2 separate regions of the Homo sapiens genome follow, and region 2 is linked to region 1. A link means that fine-mapping ties the variant in region 1 to the expression of a gene that starts in the linked region. Tissue or cell type: stomach. Region 1 holds a variant in brackets; the other region holds the start of a gene. All regions are shown on one strand. Distances are between the middles of the regions. Region 1 holds the start of LOC124901461 (a long non-coding RNA gene). Region 2 holds the start of RNASET2 (ribonuclease T2).

The links.
Region 2: it holds the start of RNASET2, and the variant in region 1 is fine-mapped to the expression of RNASET2 in stomach (GTEx, PIP above 0.99).

The regions. Positions count from the first base shown.
Region 1 is chr6:166,889,643-166,899,016 of GRCh38, forward strand. It overlaps LOC124901461 (a long non-coding RNA gene), which reads right to left and starts at 7,430. Exons shown (of 2, transcript XR_007059867.1): 1 at 3,308-7,430. The variant G/A (reference allele first, on the strand shown) is at 4,970.
Region 2 is chr6:166,950,886-166,960,638 of GRCh38, forward strand. RNASET2 (ribonuclease T2) reads right to left here and starts at 5,665. Exons shown (of 9, transcript NM_003730.6): 1 at 5,212-5,665; 2 at 1,603-1,663. The coding sequence starts at 5,297. RefSeq lists enhancers at 1-556, 30-715, 7,615-7,734, silencers at 5,431-6,190, 6,231-6,330, 6,601-6,650 and a cis regulatory region at 8,415-8,701.

The sequences.
Region 1 (9,374 bases):
CAGAATTAATACCACACATCTACAACCATCTGATCTTTGACAAACCTGACAAAAACAAGAAATGGGGAAAGGATTCCCTATTTAATAAATGGTGCTGGGAAAACTGGTTAGCCATATGTAGAAAGCTGAAACTGGATCCCTTCCTTACACCTTATACAAAAATTAATTCAAGATGGATTAAAGACTTAAATGTTAGACCTAAAAACCATAAAAACCCTAGAAGAAAACCTAGGCAATACCATTCAGGACATAGGCATGGGCAAGGACTTCATGACTAAGACACCAAAAGCAATGGCAACAAAAGCCAGAATTGACAAATGGGATCTAATTAAACTAAAGAGCTTCTGCACAGCAAAAGAAACTACCATCAGAGTGAATAGGCAACCTACAGAATGGGAGAAAATTTTTACAATCTACGCATCTGACAAAGGGCTAATTATCCAGAATCTACAAAGAACATAAACAAATTTACAAGAAAAAAATCGAACAATCCCATCAAAAAATGGGCGAAGGATATGAACAGACACTTCTCAAAAGAAGACATTTATGCAGGCAACAGACACATGAAAAAATGCTCATCATCACTGGCCATCAGAGAAATGCAAATCAAAACCACAATGAGATACCATCTCAAATCAGTTAGAATGGCAATCATTAAAAAGTCAGGGAACAACAGATGCTGGAGAGGATGTGGAGAAATAGGAACACTTTTACACTGTTGGTGGGACTGTAAACTAGTTCAACCATTGTGGAAGTCAGTGTGGCGATTCCTCAAGGATCTAGAACTAGAAATACCATTTGACCCAGCCATCCCATTACTGGGTATACACTGGTTATATACTGGGTATACATAATAAGGATTATATAGCATGCTGCTATAAAGACACATGCACACGTATGTTTATTGCGACACTATTCACAATAGCAAAGACTTGGAACCAACCCAAATGCCCATCAATGACAGACTGGATTAAGAAAATGTGGCACATATACACCATGGAATACTATGCAGCCATAAAAAAGGATGAGTTCATGTCCTCTGAGGGACATGGATGAAGCTGGAAACCATCATTCTGAGCAAACTATCACAAGGACAGAAAACCAAACACCGCATGTTCTCACTCATAGGTGGGAATGGAGTAATGAGAACATTTGGACACACAGTGGGGAACATCACACACCAGGGCCTGTCGTGGGGTGGGGGGAGGGGGGAGGGATAGCATTAGGAGATATACCTAATGTAAATGACGAGTTAATGGGTGCAGCACATCAACATGGCACATGTATACATATGTAACAAACCTGCACGTTGTGCACATGTACCCTAGAACTTAAAGTATAAAAAAAAGAATAAATTTAACTGAGATCCCTATGTTCTACTTGCCAACAAACACCCTCCAGGAAAAGAATTAGTCCTAAAATTAAAAATAAAAAAAAAAGGGCTACCCTCTTTGAGTCCCCTCCCTTTGTATGGGAGCTCTGTTTTCACTGTATTAAATCTTGCAACTGCACTCTCTTCTGGTCTATGTTTGTGTCGGCTTGAGCTGAGCTTTCACTCGCTGTCCACTACTGCTGTCGCAGACCCGCCGCTGACTTCCATCCCTCCGGATCCTGCAGGGTGTCCGCTGTGCTCCTGATCCAGCGAGGTGCCCATTGCCGCTCCTGATCAGGCTAAAAAGGCTTGCCATTGTTCCTGCACTGCTAAGTGTCCGGGTTCGTCCTAATCAAGCTGAACACTAGTCACTGGGTTCCACAGTTCTCTTCTGTGACCCACGGCTTCTAATAGAGCTATAACACTCACCACATGGCCCAAGATTCCATTCCTTGGAATCCGTGAGACCAAGAACCCCAGGTCAGAGAACACGAGGCTTGCAACCATCTTGGAAGCAGCCCACCGCCATTTTGGAAGCAGCCAGCCACCACCTTGGGAGCTCTGTGAGCAAGGACCCCCTGGTAACATTTTGGTGACCATGAAGGGACCTCCAAAGTGGTAATACTGGACCACTTTCACTTGCTATTCTGTCCTATCCTTCCTTAGAATTGGAGGAAAATACCGGGCACCTGTCGGCCAGTTAAAAACCATTAGCATGGCTTTTTAACCATGCTATATGCCTATGTCCTAGGCATATAGCCTAGGACATAGGACATGCCATGCCTATGTCCAGACTTAGGACTCAGGTGTGAGGCTATCTGGGGAAGGGCTTTCTAACAACCCCCAACCCTTCTGGGTTGGGGACATTGGTCTGCCTGGAGCCAGCTTCCACTTTCAATTTTCTTGGGGAAGCCAGGGGCCAACTAGAGGCAGAAAGCTGTCATCCCGAACTCCCGGCATTAGCCAGTTGAGATCATGGTGCAGCCAGAAGTCTCTCCTCAACAGTTGCCCATGCATGCACCCCTACCTTTCCTTCTGACCCATACATCCTGGGTCCCAACCACGACGTTCTTGAAAGTGTAGCCCCAAAATTCTCCTTACCTCTGAATCTTCTTCCTCTGATCCCTGCCTCCTAGGTACTAATGGTTCAGACTTTCATTTCCTCTGGCAAGTTGTAACTCCAAAGGGATCTAAGGAAGCTCTACGCTGTGTTCTTAGGCATCTAGGCTACAAACCCAGGAAGTGTTATCCCTGGTGTCCCACCCGATTTAAGTATACAGCTCTCGACATGGGCAGTTATGTTGGACCCGTTCCCCACCACCCTTGCCAGGGCCCCAAATTTGTAATGGCTAAGAGAAGGCGAGAGATGGAGGAGAGAGAGAGACAGAGGAGGGAGAGAGAGAGAGAGATGGAGGAGAGAGAGAGAGAAAGAGGGAGTCAAAGAGAAAAAAACAGAGAAAGATAGAAATAGTAAAAAACAGTGTGCCCTATTCCTTTAAAAGCCAGGGTAAATTTAAAACCTGTAATTGATAATTGAAGGTCTTCTCCATGACCCTATAACACTCCAATACTACCTTGTTGTTAGTGTAAACAAGGGCGTAGCCTGAAAACACTGAGACCGCTAACAACCAGGAGCCTTCCCATCAAAATTCCTCAACTCAGTGACCCGCAGATGGCCCAAATGCATACAGTCTGTAGCAGCAACTGCTTTGCTAACAGAAGAAAGTAGAAAAGTGACGTTTAGAGGAAACCTCATTGTGAGCACACCTAATCAGTTCAGAATTATTCTAAGTCAAAAAAGCAAAAAGGTAGCTTACTAACTCAAAAATCTTAAAGCATGCGGCTTTTCTGTTAGAAAAAGGTAATTTAACACCAACCACTGATAATCCCATTAACCCAGCAGATTTCCCAACAAAGGATTTAAATCTTAATTACCATACAAAGGTCCGACCAGATCTAGGAGGAACTCCCTTCAGGACAGGACAGTAGATGGTTCTTCCCTGGTGACTGAGGAAAAAACCACAATGGGCATTCAGTAATTGGTAGGGAGACTCTTGTGGAAGCAGAGTTAGAAAAATTGCTTAATAATTGGTCTCCTCAAACGTGCGAGCCGTTTGCACTCAGCCAAGCCTTAAAGTACTCACAGAATCAAAAAAGACTATCTCAATCCTGACTCAAAAGGTTACCTACACCCTCTCTGAAATGAATTTGCATAAGAACTGTTGTTTATGGGAATGCATCTTGATGGGGAAGCTGGGTTGTTATGAAATACTCAGGAACCCAGCCCAGCTCTAGGACTCACCCCTGAGCACAAAGGCAATGTTGGGTACGCTGGTAAAGGACCACTAGAATCCAGCAGCCTGGACCCCTTTCTTTGTGGTCAAGAAAGGCAGGAAAAGGGTGCAAGACTGCTACTTCGGTGAGCATAACTAATCCGATAAGCCGAGGTCCATGGGTGGTTACGCACCCTGGAAAGGAATAAGCATTAGGACCACAGCGGACACTCTAAGATTAATGCACATCGGAAAATGACTAGGGGTGCTGGCATCCCTCAGTTCTTTTTTCAGATAGGAAATGTTCCGCCCAAGGCAAAAATGCCCCTAAGATGTATTCTGGAGAATTGGGACCAATTTGACCCTCAGATGCTAAGAAAGAAATGACTCATTTTCTTCTGCAGTACCGCCTGGCCACGATATCCTCTTCAAGGGGGAGAAACCTGGCCTCTGGAGGGAAGTATAAATTATAACACCATCTTACAGCTAGAACTCTTTTGTAAAAAAGAAGGCAACTGGAGTGAAGTGCCATATGTACAAACTTTCTTTTCATTAAGAGACAACTCGCAATTATGTAAAAAGTGTGATTTATGCCCTACAAGAAGCCTTCAGAGTCTACCTCCCTACCCCACCATCCCCCCAACTCCTCCCCCAACTAATAAGGACCCCCCTTGAACCCAAACGGTCCAAAAGGAGATAGACAAAGGGGTAAACAATGAATCAAAGGTGCCAATATTCCCCGATTATGCCCCCTCCAAGCAGTGAGAGGAGGAGAATTCATCCCAGCCAGAGTGCATGTACCTTTTTCTCTCTCGGACTTAAAGCAAATTAAAATAGACCTAGGTAAATCCTCAGATAACCCTGATGGCTATATTGATGTTTTACAGGGGTTAGGACAATCCTTCGATCTGATATGGAGAGATATAATGTTACTGCTAAATCAGACGTTAACCCCAAATGAGAGAAGTGCCACCATAACTGCAGCCTGAGAGTTTGGCGATCTCTGGTATCTCAGTCAGGTCAATGATAGGATGATAACAGAGGAAAGAGAATGATTCCCCACAGGCCAGCAGGCAGTTCCCAGTGTAGACCCTCACTGGGACGCAGAATCAGAACATGGAGATTGGTGCTGCAGACATTTGCTAACTTGTGTGCTGGAAGGACTAAGGAAAACCAGGAAGAAGCCTACAAATTTTTCAATGATGTCCACTATAACACAGGGAAAGGAAGAAAATCCTACTGCTTTTCTGGAGAGACTAAGGGAGGCATTGAGGAAGCATACCTCTCTGTCACCTGACTCTATTGAAGGCCAACTAATCTTAAA[G/A]GATAAGTTTATCACTCAGTCAGCTGCAGACATTAGAAAAAAACTTCAAAAGTCCGCCTTAGGCCCAGAGCAAAACTTAGAAACCCTATTGAACTTGGCAACCTTGGTTTTTTATAATAGAGATCAGGAGGAGCAGGCGGAACAGGACAAACGGGATTTAAAAAGGCCACTGCTTTAGTCATGGCCCTCAGGCAAGTGGACTTTGGAGGCTCTGGAAAAGGAAAAGCTGGGAAAATCGAATGCCTAACAGGGCTTGCTTCCAGTGCGGTCTACAAGCACACGTTAAAAAAGATCATCCAAGTAGAAATAAGCTGCCTCCTCGTCCACCATTATGTCAAGGGAATCACTAGAAGGCCCACTGCCCCAGGGGATGAAGGTCCTCTGAGTCAGAAGCCACTAACCAGATGATCCAGCAGCAGGACTGAGGGTACCGGGGCAAGCACCAGCCCATGCCATTACCCTCACAGAGCCTCGGGTATGCTTGACCATTGAGGGCCAGGAGGTTAACTGTCTCCTGGACACTGGCGCGGCCTTCTCAGTCTTACTCTCCTGTCCCGGACAACTGTCCTCCAGATCTGTCACTCTCCGAGGGGTCCTAGGACAGCCAGTCATTAGATACTTCTCCCAGCCACTAAGTTGTGCCTGGGGAACTTTACTCTTTTCTCATGCTTTTCCAATTATGCCTGAAAGCTCCACTCCCTTGTTAGGGAAAGACATTCTAGCAAAAGCAGGGGCCATTATACACCTGAACATAGGAGAAGGAACACCCATTTGTTGTCCCTGCTTGAGGAAGGAATTAATCCTGAAGTCTGGGCAACAGAAGGACAATATGGACGAGCAAAGAATGCCCATCCTGTTCTAGTTAAACTAAAGGATTCCGCCTCCTTTCCCTACCAAAGGCAGTACTCCCTTAGACCTGAGGCCCAACAAGGACTCCAAAAGATTGTTAAGGACCTAAAAGCCCAAGGCCTAGTAAAACCATGCAATAGCCCCTGCAATACTCCAATTTTAGGAGTAGAGAAACCCAACAGACAGTGGAGGTTTGCACAAGAGCTCAGGATTATCAATGAGGCCATTGTCCCTCTATACCCAGCTGTACCTAACCCTTATACTCTGCTTTCCCAAATACCAGAGGAAGCAGAGTGGTTTACAGTCCTGGACCTTAAGAATGCCTTTTTCTGCATCCCTGTACATCCTGACTCTCAATTCTTGTTTGCCTTTGAAGATCCTTCAAACACAACCTGTCAACTCACCTGGACTGTTTTACCCCAAGGGTTCAGGGATAGCCCCCATCTATTTGGCCAGGCATTAGCCCAAGACTTGAGCCAATTCTCATACCTGGACACTCTTGTCCTTCAGTACATGGATGATTTACTTTTAGTCGCCCGTTCAGAAACCTTGTGCCATCAAGCCACCCAAGAACTCTTAAATTTCCTCACTACCTGTGGCTACAAGGTTTCCAAACCAAAGGCTCGGCTCTGCTCACAGCAGATTAGATACTGAGGGCTAAAATTATCCAAAGGCACCAGGGCCCTCAGTGAGGAACGTATCCAGCCTATACTGGCTTATCCTCATCCCAAAACCCTAAAGCAACTAAGAGGGTTCCTTGGCATAACAGGTTTCTGCCGAAAACAGATTCCCAGGTACAGCAAAATAGCCAGACCATTATATACACTAATTAAGGAAACTCAGAAAGCCAATACCTATTTAGTAAGATGGACACCTAAACAGAAGTGGCTTTCCAGGCCCTAAAGAAGGCCCTAACCCAAGCCCCAGTGTTCAGCTTGCCAACAGGGCAAGATTTTTCTTTATATGCCACAGAAAAAACAGGAATCGCTCTAGGAGTCCTTACACAGGTCCGAGGGATGAGCTTGCAACCCATGGCATACCTGAATAAGGAAATTGATGTAGTGGCAAAGGGTTGGCCTCATTGTTTATGGGTAGTGGCGGCAGTAGCAGTATTAGTGTCTGAAGCAGTTAAAATAATACAGGGAAGAGATCTTACTGTATGGACATCTCATGACGTGAATGACATACTCACTGCTAAAGAAGACTTGTGGCTGTCAGACAACTGTTTACTTAACTATCAGGCTCTATTACTTGAAGGGCCAGTACTGTTAACCCAGCCACATTTCTTCCAGACAATGAAGAAAAGATAGAACATAACTGTCAACAAGTAATTCCTCAAACCTGTGCTGCTCGAGGGGACCTTTTAGAGGTTCCCTTGACTGATCCCAACCTCAACTTGTATACTGATGGAAGTTCCCTTGTAGAAAAAGGACTTCGAAAAGTGGGCTATGCGGTGGTCAGTGATAACAGAATACTTGAAAGTAATCCCCTCACTCCAGGAACTAGTGCTCAGCTGGCAGAACTAATAGCCCTCACTCGGGCACTAGAATTGGGAGAAGGAAAAAGGGTAAATATATATACAGACTCTAAGTATGCTTACCTAGTCCTCCATGCCCACACAGCACTATGGAAAGAAAGGGAATTCCTAACTTCCGAGGAAACACCTTTCAAACATCAGGAAGCCATTAGGAGATTATTATTGGCTGTATAGAAACCTAAAGAGGTGGCAGTCTTACACTGCTGGGGTCATCAGAAAGGAAAGGAAAAGGAAATAGAAGGGAACCACCAAGCGGATATTAAAGCCAAAAGAGCCACAAGGCCGGACACTCCATTAGAAATGCTTATAGAAGGACCCCTAGTATGGGGTAATCCACTCCAGGAAACCAAGCCCCAGTACTCAGAAGAAGAAATAGAATGGGGAGCCTCACGAGGACATAGTTTCCTCCCCTCAGCATGGCTAGCCACCGAAGAAGGAAAAATACTTTTGCCTGCAGCTAACCAATGAAATTACTTAAAACCCTTCACCAAACCTTTCACTTAGGCATTAATAGCACCCATCAGGTGGCCAAATCATTATTTACTGGACCAGGCCTTGTCAAAACTATCAAGCAGATAGTCAAGGCCTGTAAACTGTGCCAAAGAAATAATCCCCTGCACTGCAGGCCATTCATTTCAATCCCTGTATCTTTAACCTCCTTGTTAAGTTTGTCTCTTCCAGAATCAAAGCTGTAAAACTACAAATCGTTCTTCAAATGGTGCCCCAGATGCAGTCCATGACTAAGATCTACCGTGGACCCCTGGACCGGCCTGCTAGCCCATGCTCTGATGTTAATGACATTGAAGGCACCCCTCCCGAGGAAATCTCAACTGCACCATCCCTACTATGCCCCAATTCAGCAGGAAGCAGTTAGAGCGGTTGTCGGCCAACCTCCCCAGCAGCACTTGGGTTTTCCTGTTGAGAGGGGGTACTGAGAGACAGGACTAGCTGGATTTTCTAGGCTGACTAAGAATCCCTAAGCCTAGCTGGGAAGGTGATGGCTTCCACCTTTAAACACGGGGCCTGCAACTTAGCTCACATCCGACCAATCAGATAGTAAAGAGAGCTCACTAAAATGCTAATTATGCAACAACATGAGGTAAAGAAATAGCCAATCATCTATTGCCTGAGAGCACAGCAGGAGGGACAATGATCAGGACATGAACCCAGGCATTTGAGCTAGCAAATGCTACCCTCTTTGGGTCCCCTCCCTTTGTATGGGAGCTCTGTTTTCACTATTAGATCTTGCAACTGCAAAATAAATAAATAAATAAAATAAAAAAGTGTCTGCTGAAGGTCTACCTGCTGTGTAAGAAAAGAAAACACAATATCGACAACATTCTTCCATTTGCATCATTATCGCTCATTTACTTCTAAAAGGATGGCCTCTGCTTGGAGGGAAAAAATGGGCAATTGAAGCAGAGTTAAAGCATCGTTAGGGCAATATGCCTCTGTCTTTTTAAAGCCTTGGGCTTGTGAGGCTCACTGGTAGGAGATAAAATGTGATGTGAGCACTCAGATACCCCCAAACACAGACAGGAACGACAAACACTGGCATTGAGTAAGTGCTCTAACACCCAAACTCAGGACCACGCCCTACCTGTACATGTTACCTTATTTGGAAATAGGATCTTTCAGATTTAGCAAGATAAAGGAATACTGCACATGGGTGGGCCCTAAGCCAATGATTGGTGTCCTAATGAGAACAGAGAAATTTGAACACACTTGGGGCAGAATGCCAGGTGAACACACACAGGAACAATGCCACGGGAACACACACAACGGGGAGAACGCCATGTGAACACACAGAGGGGAGAACGCCAGGTGAACGCACATGGAGGGGAGAACGCCGGGTGAACGCACACAGGTGGGAGAACGCCAGGAGAACGCACACAGAGAGGAGAACGCCGGGTGAACGCACACAGTCGGGAGAATGCCGGGTGAATGCACAAAGTAAGGAGAAAGTTGGGTGAACTCACAGAGCTGGGAGAACGCGGGGTGAACGCACACAGCGGGGAG
Region 2 (9,753 bases), 61 kb after region 1:
AGCCCTACAGGGACTGTGGGTTTTTCTCCTCGTGTGGAGACGAGAGATTGTAGAAATAAAGACACAAGACAAAGAGACAGAAGAAAAGACAGCTGGGCCCAGGGGACCACTACCACCAAGACGCGGAGACCAGTAGTGGCCCCGAATGCCTGGCTGCACTGTTGTTTATTGGATACAAGGCAAAAGGGGCAGGGTAAGGAGTGTGAGTCATCTCCAATGACTGATAAGGTCACGTGAGTCACGTGTCCACTGGACAGAGGGCCCTTCCCTGTATGGCAGCGGAGGCGGAGAGAGAGAGAGGCCAGCTTACGCCATTATTTCTTCTATGCATTTCAAAGACTTTTAGTACTTTCACTAATTCTGCTACTGCTATCTAGAAGGCAGAGCCAGGTGTACTGGGTGGAACATGAAAGTGAAACAGCAGTGTGACTGCTGAAGCACAGCATCACGGGGAGATGGTTAGGCCTCCAGATGGCTGTGGGCAGGCCTGACTGATATGAGGCCTATCCACAAGAGGTATGGTGAAGCAGAGTCTGCTCTAACTCCCTTTCCCAGTCTGCTGAGTAACGGGTGCCTTCCCTAGGCACTGACGCTACCACTAGACCGAGGTCAGCTAAGTAATGGTTGCCTTCCCAGGCACTGGTGTTACCACTAGACCAAAGAGCCCTCTAGTGGCCCTGTCCGGGCGTGACAGAGGCTCACACTTGTCTTCTGGTCACTTCTCACCGTGCCCCTTCAGCTCCTATCTCTGTATGGCCTGGTTTTTCCTAGGCTGTAATTGTAGAGCAAGGATTATTATAATATTGGAATAAAGAGCAATGCTACAAACTGATGATTAATAATATTCATATATCATCATATCTATAATCTATTTCTAGTATAACTGTTCTCATTTTATATATTTTCTTTATTATACTGGAACAGCTTATGCCCTCGGTCTCTTGCCTTGGCACCTGGGTGGCTTGCCGCCCACAGAGGGAGGAGACAAACTGAGGCTTGCTGTGGGTTGAACCGTGTCCTCCCAGAAGATATATCCCTGTCCTAACCCCTCCTCCCATCTGTGAACATGACCCTACATGGACACAGGGTCTTTGCAGATGTCATCAAGAAAAGGTGATACCAGATTAGGGTGGGCCCTAAATCCAATTACTGGTGTCCTCATCAGAAGAGACAGAGAGACACAAAGTGGAGAACACACCGTGAAGGAGAAGGCAGAGATTGGGGTGATGGGTCAGCCCAGGAACGCAGAGGACCACGGGTCCTTACTAGAAGCTAGCAGAGAAACAGAACAAACTCTCTCAGAGCCTTCCAGGAGGAACCAACCCTTCTGACCCCTAGGTTGAAACTTCCCCTTCCAGGACCGTGAGAATAAATTCCTGAGGCTCTCAGCCACCCAGCTTGTGGCACTTTTGTTACAGCAGCCCTGGGAAGCTCACACACAGCCCTCCTGGAGGCAGTCTCTGCAGGAGACACCGCCCACCCGCCAGAGCGATGCCTACCTCCCGCACCAGCAGCGTGGGTGCCCTGGACGGGCACGTGCACACAAACCCCTCTTCACAGGGCTCCCCAGGCCCCAGGGCCCGTCAAGGCAGAAACACTCACCTCGCATACTGTCTCAGGCCAGTGCTGAACCATAATTAGTTTTTTCCACTCATGGTTGTCACTGTTAAAACATAAGAAACTTATTTTTCAAGAACTTTTTTTAAAGTTACAGAAAAAATTCATCCACCCATCCATCCCTTCAATCATTCATTCAGCACTGAGTGCTGTGGGAGGAGGAACACTGCCTGCCCTGCTGCTGCACACACTCCCGTGAGGAAGGCGGTACACCCCTACACTAAGAAGGCACGTGTGGTGGCGTCCAGTGCTGAGTGGCGGAGAACATGAATAGGATAAGGGGAGGAGGGGAGAGGAGGGGAAGCGGAGGCAGGGCAAGCTAGGAGTGCAGCCAGGGAGGGCCTCACTGAAGGGAAGCCACTGAGCCACGAAGCACCTTTCTCCTAAGGATGCTCAAGAGAAATGCAGACCCACGATCCCTCCCCTGCATTCGTGAAACCCATAAAAGCCTGAAACCTGGTAGTTTTTTGTAATTCATTTGGCAACAAAACATAACCTGAACTAGCATAACGCTATTTATCGTTACTACCCCAACTCAGTTTTTAGACTTCACTTGCTTCTCTGCAGAATTTGTGTCATTTGATTTTAGGGTGCTACTTCAGATGCCACCAGGACTGTTAACTTGAACACGGTATGTGCACTGCATCATGAATGTTATTCACGACATGGTATGCACACAGCACTGCATCACACGTGTTACCCAGAACCTGGGGCCACACTGGATCACAAACCTGAACACCGTGAAACTCATCTGACTCTAAGACTTCAAAGAAGCCACTGTGGAGCGGCAGCTTATTCATGGCAGTAGGCCTCTAGCCAGAACTGCAAGACTTAACGAGACTGAAGTAAAAAGAGCAGCTTGCAAAAAATGCACATGGAAAAAGCCAGCAGCAACACAGGATATAAGTCAAGCAGACACTTCAGGATAAATCAAATTTTAGAAGGGAAGATTCCAAGTAAGAAGATCAAGTTGTCACACATTAGCTTTTGTAAATAATTGAGTCCTGTTGAATTTGTATAGAATTTACAGTTAAGATGGTATGAAAACTTAGTTGTACATTGGAACTAATTATGCAAGCTCTCAGTATAAAAGGAAAAAAGGGTTCAAGCGTGGTGGCTCACACCTATAATCCCAGCACTTTGGGAGGCAGAGGCAGGAGGATTGCTTGAGCTCAGGAGTTCAAGACCAGCCTGGGCAACATGGTGAAACCCTGTCTCTACAAAAATTAGCCAGGTGTGGTGGCATGAACCTGTAGTCCCAGCTACTTGGAAGGCGCTGAGGCAAGAGGATAGCTTAAGCCCAGGAGGTGGAAGATGCAGTGAGCCCAGATCACATCACTGCACTCCAACCTGGGCTACACAGCCAGACCCTGTCTCAAAAAAAAAAAAAAAGGATGAGCTGCAGGGTGAGAATTGGAGCTGGTAAAGCATTTTTTACCCTTGGGTGAAAAACCTTATTTTACATAGTCGGAACCTGAGGCTGGAAAGCTTAGCAACACCCAGGAAGATGAGACTATCAATATGCTTACAACAAAACTACCAAGACTCAGACGTTTGTAACAAACTCTCCATCTAAAACCAGGCAGAGTGATGTGACTGCAGGAGACCCCCTCCCACACAGATGCCCCCCTCCCCTATTCACGGAGAAAGTAATGGAGAAGCTAAAGAAAGTCAAAGAAGAAAGAAAAATCACCAAGGTCTCAAAACCAGTTAGAACTTGGGAAAATGCCCGCTGACCTATGAAGCCCTCGTGGTCTGAATCAACCATGTTCTCGCAAATCTTGCCTGCTCAAGTTTGTCCGATCATATCAGTTGCATGAATTATGGGCTGGGGTGGGGGATCCACATATGACAGCCTGTTTTATGCTAATGTTTACTTCCAGCCAGACATCATTCCAAGTTACATTCTGTACCTTAACTGATTTCTCCTGAAGCCAACTCTGTGAGGCTGACTGTTACTATTTCTACTTTACAGATGAGGAAACTGGGGCATAGAGAGCTCAAAGGTCCCACACCTGGGTGTGAACTAGCAGTTTCCACTCAGCCAGCAAGGGCCAGCATGCCACAGACTTCCCCAGTGAGAGGCTCTGAACCTCATGGCCAATAAATAAGGACATAAATGTAGCTCTTTTTCAGAAAATACACTTTCCGGAACACTGAAATATAATGCTACATTTTAATGTACATGATTAAAAATATATACCTAAGGTGTTTAAAAAGTAAAACCCTGGCCGGGTGCAGTGGCTCACGCCTGTAATCCCAGCACTTTGGGAGGCCGAGGCGGGCGGATCACCTGAGGTCAGAAGTTCGAGACCAGCCTGGCTATTAAAAATACAAAAATTAGCCAGGCGTGGTGGTGTGCATCTGTAATCCCACCTACTCAGAGGCTGAGGCAGGAGAATCGCTTGAACCCGGGAGGTGGAGGTTGCAGTGAGCTGAGGTCACGCCACTGTACTCCAGCCTGAGTGACAGAGTAAGACTGTCTAAAAAAAAATAAATAAGTAAAACCCACCTTTTCCACACCTACTATGTAAGTAAGAAATCCTATTAACCCGATCATTACCCAAATAGAAAGAAATAATATGGTATTCAAATATTGGTATCTTCCACAGAATTAAAGTTGGAGTTCTTTGCAGCACCGCCTGTTTACCCCTAATTAATTTGGGCGGCTGCCACACACACACACGCACACACGCACGCACACACGCACGCACACACGCGCACACACGCACGCACGCACACACACGCACACACGCACACACACACACGCGCACACACGACACACACGCACAGACGCGCACACACGACACACACGCACACACACGCACGCACGCACACGCACACGCACGCACACACACACGCACACACAAACGCACACGCACACACACACACGCGCACACACACACGCGCACACACACACACACGCGGAGGGCGAGCCAAGGGAAGGGATTCAGAACAGGATACTCAAAAAGAGGAAGAACCGTCGTTTCACCACCCGCCGCAGTGAAAGCTGAAATTAAGTGTCCCCTCCACGACTTCTTCGACCTCTGAGAGAACTTCGAGTGCAGGAACAGTGCTCCACCAAGCCTGCCACCTGCTTTGTCGCGTCCTAGGCTGGGAGCAGTCTGTGGGATGAGTTTCCAGTCCAGCTCCAGGCTGGAGTGTACCCAGGACCTCACCCTACCCCCTACTCCTTCCCAGGGGTCACCCCGGGGAGTGTTCAGGGCTCCCCAACCCACTTCTTCCCAGGAGTCACCCCAGAGCGTGCCCAGGGCTCCCCCCAACCCACTCCTTCCCAGAGGTCACCCCGGGGCGTGCTCAGGACTCCCCTCATCGCACTCCTTCCCAGAGGTCACTTCTGAGTGTGCTAAGGGCTCCCCCCAACCCACTCCCTCCAGGGGTCACCCCGAGGCGTGCTCAACTTCCCAACTTCTTCCCAGGGGTCACCCCGGAGCGTGCTCGGCTCCCCCCGCCCTCCCCAGTCGCTGCCCGGGGCTCAGCGACCGCCGACCCCGAGAGCTGCAGCCTTCACCCAGTGGAAAGCTCTAGGGCCCGGCTCCCACGCTCCCCACTTTACCTCGCAAGGTAACTCACCGCAGGCGCTTGTCCGCACCGCCCAGGCAAAGCAACGCCAGGCAGAGGCAGCCCAGCAGGGCCCCGCGCAGGGCTGCAGGGCGCATGGTGCCGACCTGCGGAGAGAACGCTGCCAGCTGCCGCTCCGGCTCCCACTTCCCACCTGCTGCCCGAGGAAGACTTCCGGGAGAAACGCTGTCTCCGAGCCCCCGCGCCGCCGCGCTCCCTCCGCTGCAGCAGCGGCCACCGGGTGCGCCCGGAGCCCTGGGACGGCCTAAACCAGTATCTCGCGGGCCCCGCGCCGGGCTCCGGGAATGGCCGCAGCAGCCCTGGCGACCCGGGCCCCTCGGAGCTCCCCTTCAGGATCGTGCACCAAGCGCGCACGTCCCGGGCTCTGCTTCGCGACCCACAGCGACCCCAGCTCCTCCACGCTGCAGCCGCCGTCCGCCCACGACCACGGTCAGTCGCGTTGCTCCCAGCCCAGGGCGCCCTGCGGGCCTGCACCGGAGCAGAGAGCCACGCCCCCAGGACGGCACGCCCCCGCCGGTGGACACGCCCCCCAGAACGGCACGTCCCCGCCCGGCGTTCACGCCCCGCCCCGTGGTTGGCTCAGAGAGGCCGAGGCAGGAGCAGCTCCGCGGGCCTTGAGGGCGTGTCAGGCGGCTGTGTTCCTTCGCCACGCAGGCGCCCCGCGCCTTTTCCCGCAGCTCTGCGCCACTCCCACACTCCCGGGTCCGAGCTAACCTAGACCACCCGTGAGGACCGCCCTCGGGGGGACCGCCCGTGTCTGCGCCATCCCCCGCCAGCAAGTGGGCGTGCGGGCCCCAGGGCCACTCTACTCTCCAGGGACAGCCCCCAGCCCGACCCGCGCACCCTGCAGGCCCGCGGTCCGCACGCAGCACCCGCTTTCAAAAACTGCGCCCTGCAAGCTGCCCGGGAGCTCCTGACTGCAGATGGTGCTTGGCCGCCCAGGCTCCCCGCAGCCTCCCGCCACCTCGGCGCTCCACTGCGCAGCCCGAGGGACGGCTCCAGAATTAGGAGGGGACCTACTCGGGTCACTCTCCTGGAAACCTCTCCAGTCTCCCGGTGCTAGGTGCTGGGAGCACCAACATTCCTAGAAGGGCCTGGCCCTCACCCAGCCCTGGGCCTCACCTGCCCCTCCCCGCGGGCCCCAGGAGCCCGGAAGTCATCTCTGTGGGGGCAGCAAAGAGCCGCCTCGGGGCGCGACCTGGGAAGTCATCTTGTGAGGGATCCCCTCCCAGAGGGACGGGCCACCCCCCACGGATGAAGGGGACTTCATGTCAGCCCCACCTTGGCGTAGCCAGGGCCAGTCCCATAGGCCCGGTCTCCTCCCCCAACACCCTGGCCTTCCCAGCCCTTCAGAGGCACGGGTTCCCCTGCACCCGCGGCCCCGCCCACGGGCTGTGCACCCGGCATTGTCTCTGCAGATGTTTCTCCTCTTTCCCTTCCCTGTCCGCACACCCACAGCTAGTTAAGGCTATTCCTATTTACACGTCGAGTAAACTGCGCCTTCCTCGGGGTCCTCTGCCACTGGTAACTGTCTAAATAGCAGGTGGGCCTGTAGCCTGCTCTCCCACAGGCCTGGACCTTGCCTGCATGCATTACCATTCTTTGAAACAAAATATTTAAATGATTAATCTGTTTTTCCCACTAGACTGCAAGGCAAGGCCCATGTCTATTTTGCCCACCTTGAGTCCCTGCCACTGAGCACAGTGGATGGGGGACAGTCGGTGCTCAATAAAATGCCACCTGTGGAACAGATGGGGGGGGAAAATGGCTGACACCTCCTTAGCTCCTCCAGGACCTCCTACAGGTCATGGTGTTATTCTCGTTCTCCTTTTCCCTAACGACTTATTTGTTTCTTTCCGGCTCCTTTCATTCCTTCCTCTCAAGAATATAGGCACACGCCACAGTTCTTTTTCTCTTTTCTTTTAAGCTAAAAAAATAATTTTCTTAAAACAAAAGTGCTTCCCAGAATCCTCATTTTCCTTTAAATCACAGTCCGGTGTGTTTAAACAGCCCCTTGTCAAGGAGGGCTGTTGTGACCACTGCCAAATATAAAGCAAATCTGGACTCGGGGAGGAGTGGTGTTATGAGGACCATTATTGCAGGGGCCTGGGGGCCTTTTGTCCCTACTAAAAATACAAAAATTTGCTGGGCGGGGGTGGCACGCGACTGTAATCCTGTGGCAGGAGGAGCGGCAGACAAAACCTCTCAGACACCGAGCTATAGAAGGAAGGGCTTTATTCAGCTGGGAGCATCGGCAAGCTACTGCCTTAAAATCCGAGCTCCCCGAATGCACAATTTCTGTCCCTTTTAAGGGCTCACAACATTAAAGATTTCACATGAAAGGGTCGTGATTGATTTGAGCAAGCAAGGGGTACGTGACGGGCTGCATGCACTGGTGGTCAGAGAGAAACAGAACAGGGCAGGGAGTTTCACAATGTTCTTCTATACAATGTCTGGAATCTATGAATAACATCGGTCTCTAAGTCATGAGTTGATTTTTAACTACTAGGTTTAGGCCAGGCAGGCCCAGGTCCGGTTTTGGGCCTGGCGCCGGGCTGCCTGTCTTTGATTTCACTTCCTTGTTTTTTTCTTAAAACAGGTACTGAGTATAAAACAATATAAAACAATATGAGAGGGTCTCTCTCTTCCCTCAATCCCAGCTACTCTGGAGGCTGAGGCAGGAGAATCGCTTGAACCCAGGAGGCAGAGGTTGCAGTGAGCCGAGATCGCGCCACTGCACTCCAGCCTGGGCGACAGAGTGAGACTCGGTCAACAACAACAACAAAAAGAATGAATGAAAGAAAGAAGAAAGAGAGAAAAAGAAAGAGAGAGAAAGAATGAACTGGGAATGGAGAAGTGGGATGAGAACCTGCCTTCATAGGACATTAGATCAGAGAAGGTTGACCCCGTGGCCAGCCTGTTCTCAGGGGGGACTGACTCAGGCTAAGATGAGGCCAAAAGTCCTCAGCCTCGGGGGAAGAGAGGAGCCTCACCAAGTTTGCTTAACAAGTGTGTTATTTCTATTGACTGGCTCATCATTGATGAGGTGAAGAATGGGAATTGGAGGATCTGTGTCTGGCTTTGTCCTAGGTAATGGGTAGGGGGTGGAGTGAGGGGAGCATCCGTCACTTTTCCTTTTTTTTTTTTTTTTTTTGGAGACAGCGCCCAGCTGCATCACTTCTATCACTCTTACCTATGTTATGTGGGGAAGAAGGGGGTCTCTCGCAGCAAGCCACTTTCCACAACTCACAGAGAGGAGATTTTTATCAGATAAATTCAGCAGCGTCCTACCCAGCCTGAAGAAGCCACCCAGTCATTTCCTGTTGCACTTCCTTGTTTATTTTCGACACAGTTCTCCCCACCCCTGAGAATTCTTGTCACTTCCTCCTGTACTGCCCACTTCTACTCCCCCACCCCCACATCGGAAGCTAATGAGGAGCTTCAGGCCCCTTGCTGGCATGGGCCCCACCAAGACCCCATATCTCATTCCGTATTCACAATTTTACCTTCTTGTTCTTAAAGAAGGACATCCAAATGGAAAAGCTCTCAACCCCCCAAAACTTGGATGTGAACCTGGAGCATCTGTCATCTGTCTTGTTCACTACTTGTCCACCTACCAGGATCCTAAACGGAACCCTACGTAGGGAAGAGGCAGTGGCTGTAAAGGCTGGATTTGGGTCTGGAAGCCGCCCAGCTTTACGAAAACAAAGAGGGCTCCAGCATCAAGCAGGTGGGCAGGGGCCAGAGTGGGAATTACATTGACTCACACAACATAGTGTAAAAGGGTACAAACTATGAGGTTTAAAAGATGCTGCTGGCTTGTATAGAAACATGTCCTTAGGAGAGGGGAGGGGGACAGGATGGCAACAGCCATGTCTATGAACAGACATCCTTAAATCCTTGTTAATTCTGAAGAGACCAAGATACTTTCACCACACAACCTCTTCTTGGCATTAGCTCCAGGTTTCCTGTTTCCATGCCAGCTTTTGCTGGGTTATGCTACAATAATACACCGCCCCCAAATCTCAGTGTCTCACTTAAACGGAAGTTGATCATTTATCATTCATTTGCCCATATTCCATGCTGGCTATGCGTCAGATGCCACTGTGGTCCACGGTATTTTTCACTCTGGAACCCAGGCGGTAGGAACAGCCCATATCTGGTGCTGGCCATTCCAATGGCAGAGCAGTGGCACAACTACACAGTTTAGGATTCTCATGCTCTAAAGAGCTTTGTCACACTTGAAAGAATCTCACCTTAAAAACTCCTTTCCATCCTGAATTACTTATTTGCTGAGAAAGTGAGGCCAGCTGCTGGGTGTTTCCCTGCCCTTTCTCTTCTTTTTCTTTTTCTTTTTTTTTTTTTGAGACAGAGTCTCACTCTGTCAGCCAGGCTGGAGTGCAGTCAGTGGCACAATCTCGGCTCACAGCAACCTCCGTCTCCCAGGCTCAAACAATTCTCCTGCCCTAGCCTCCCGAGTAGCTGGGATTACAGGCGTGTGCCACCACGTCCGGCTAATTTTTGTGTTTTTAG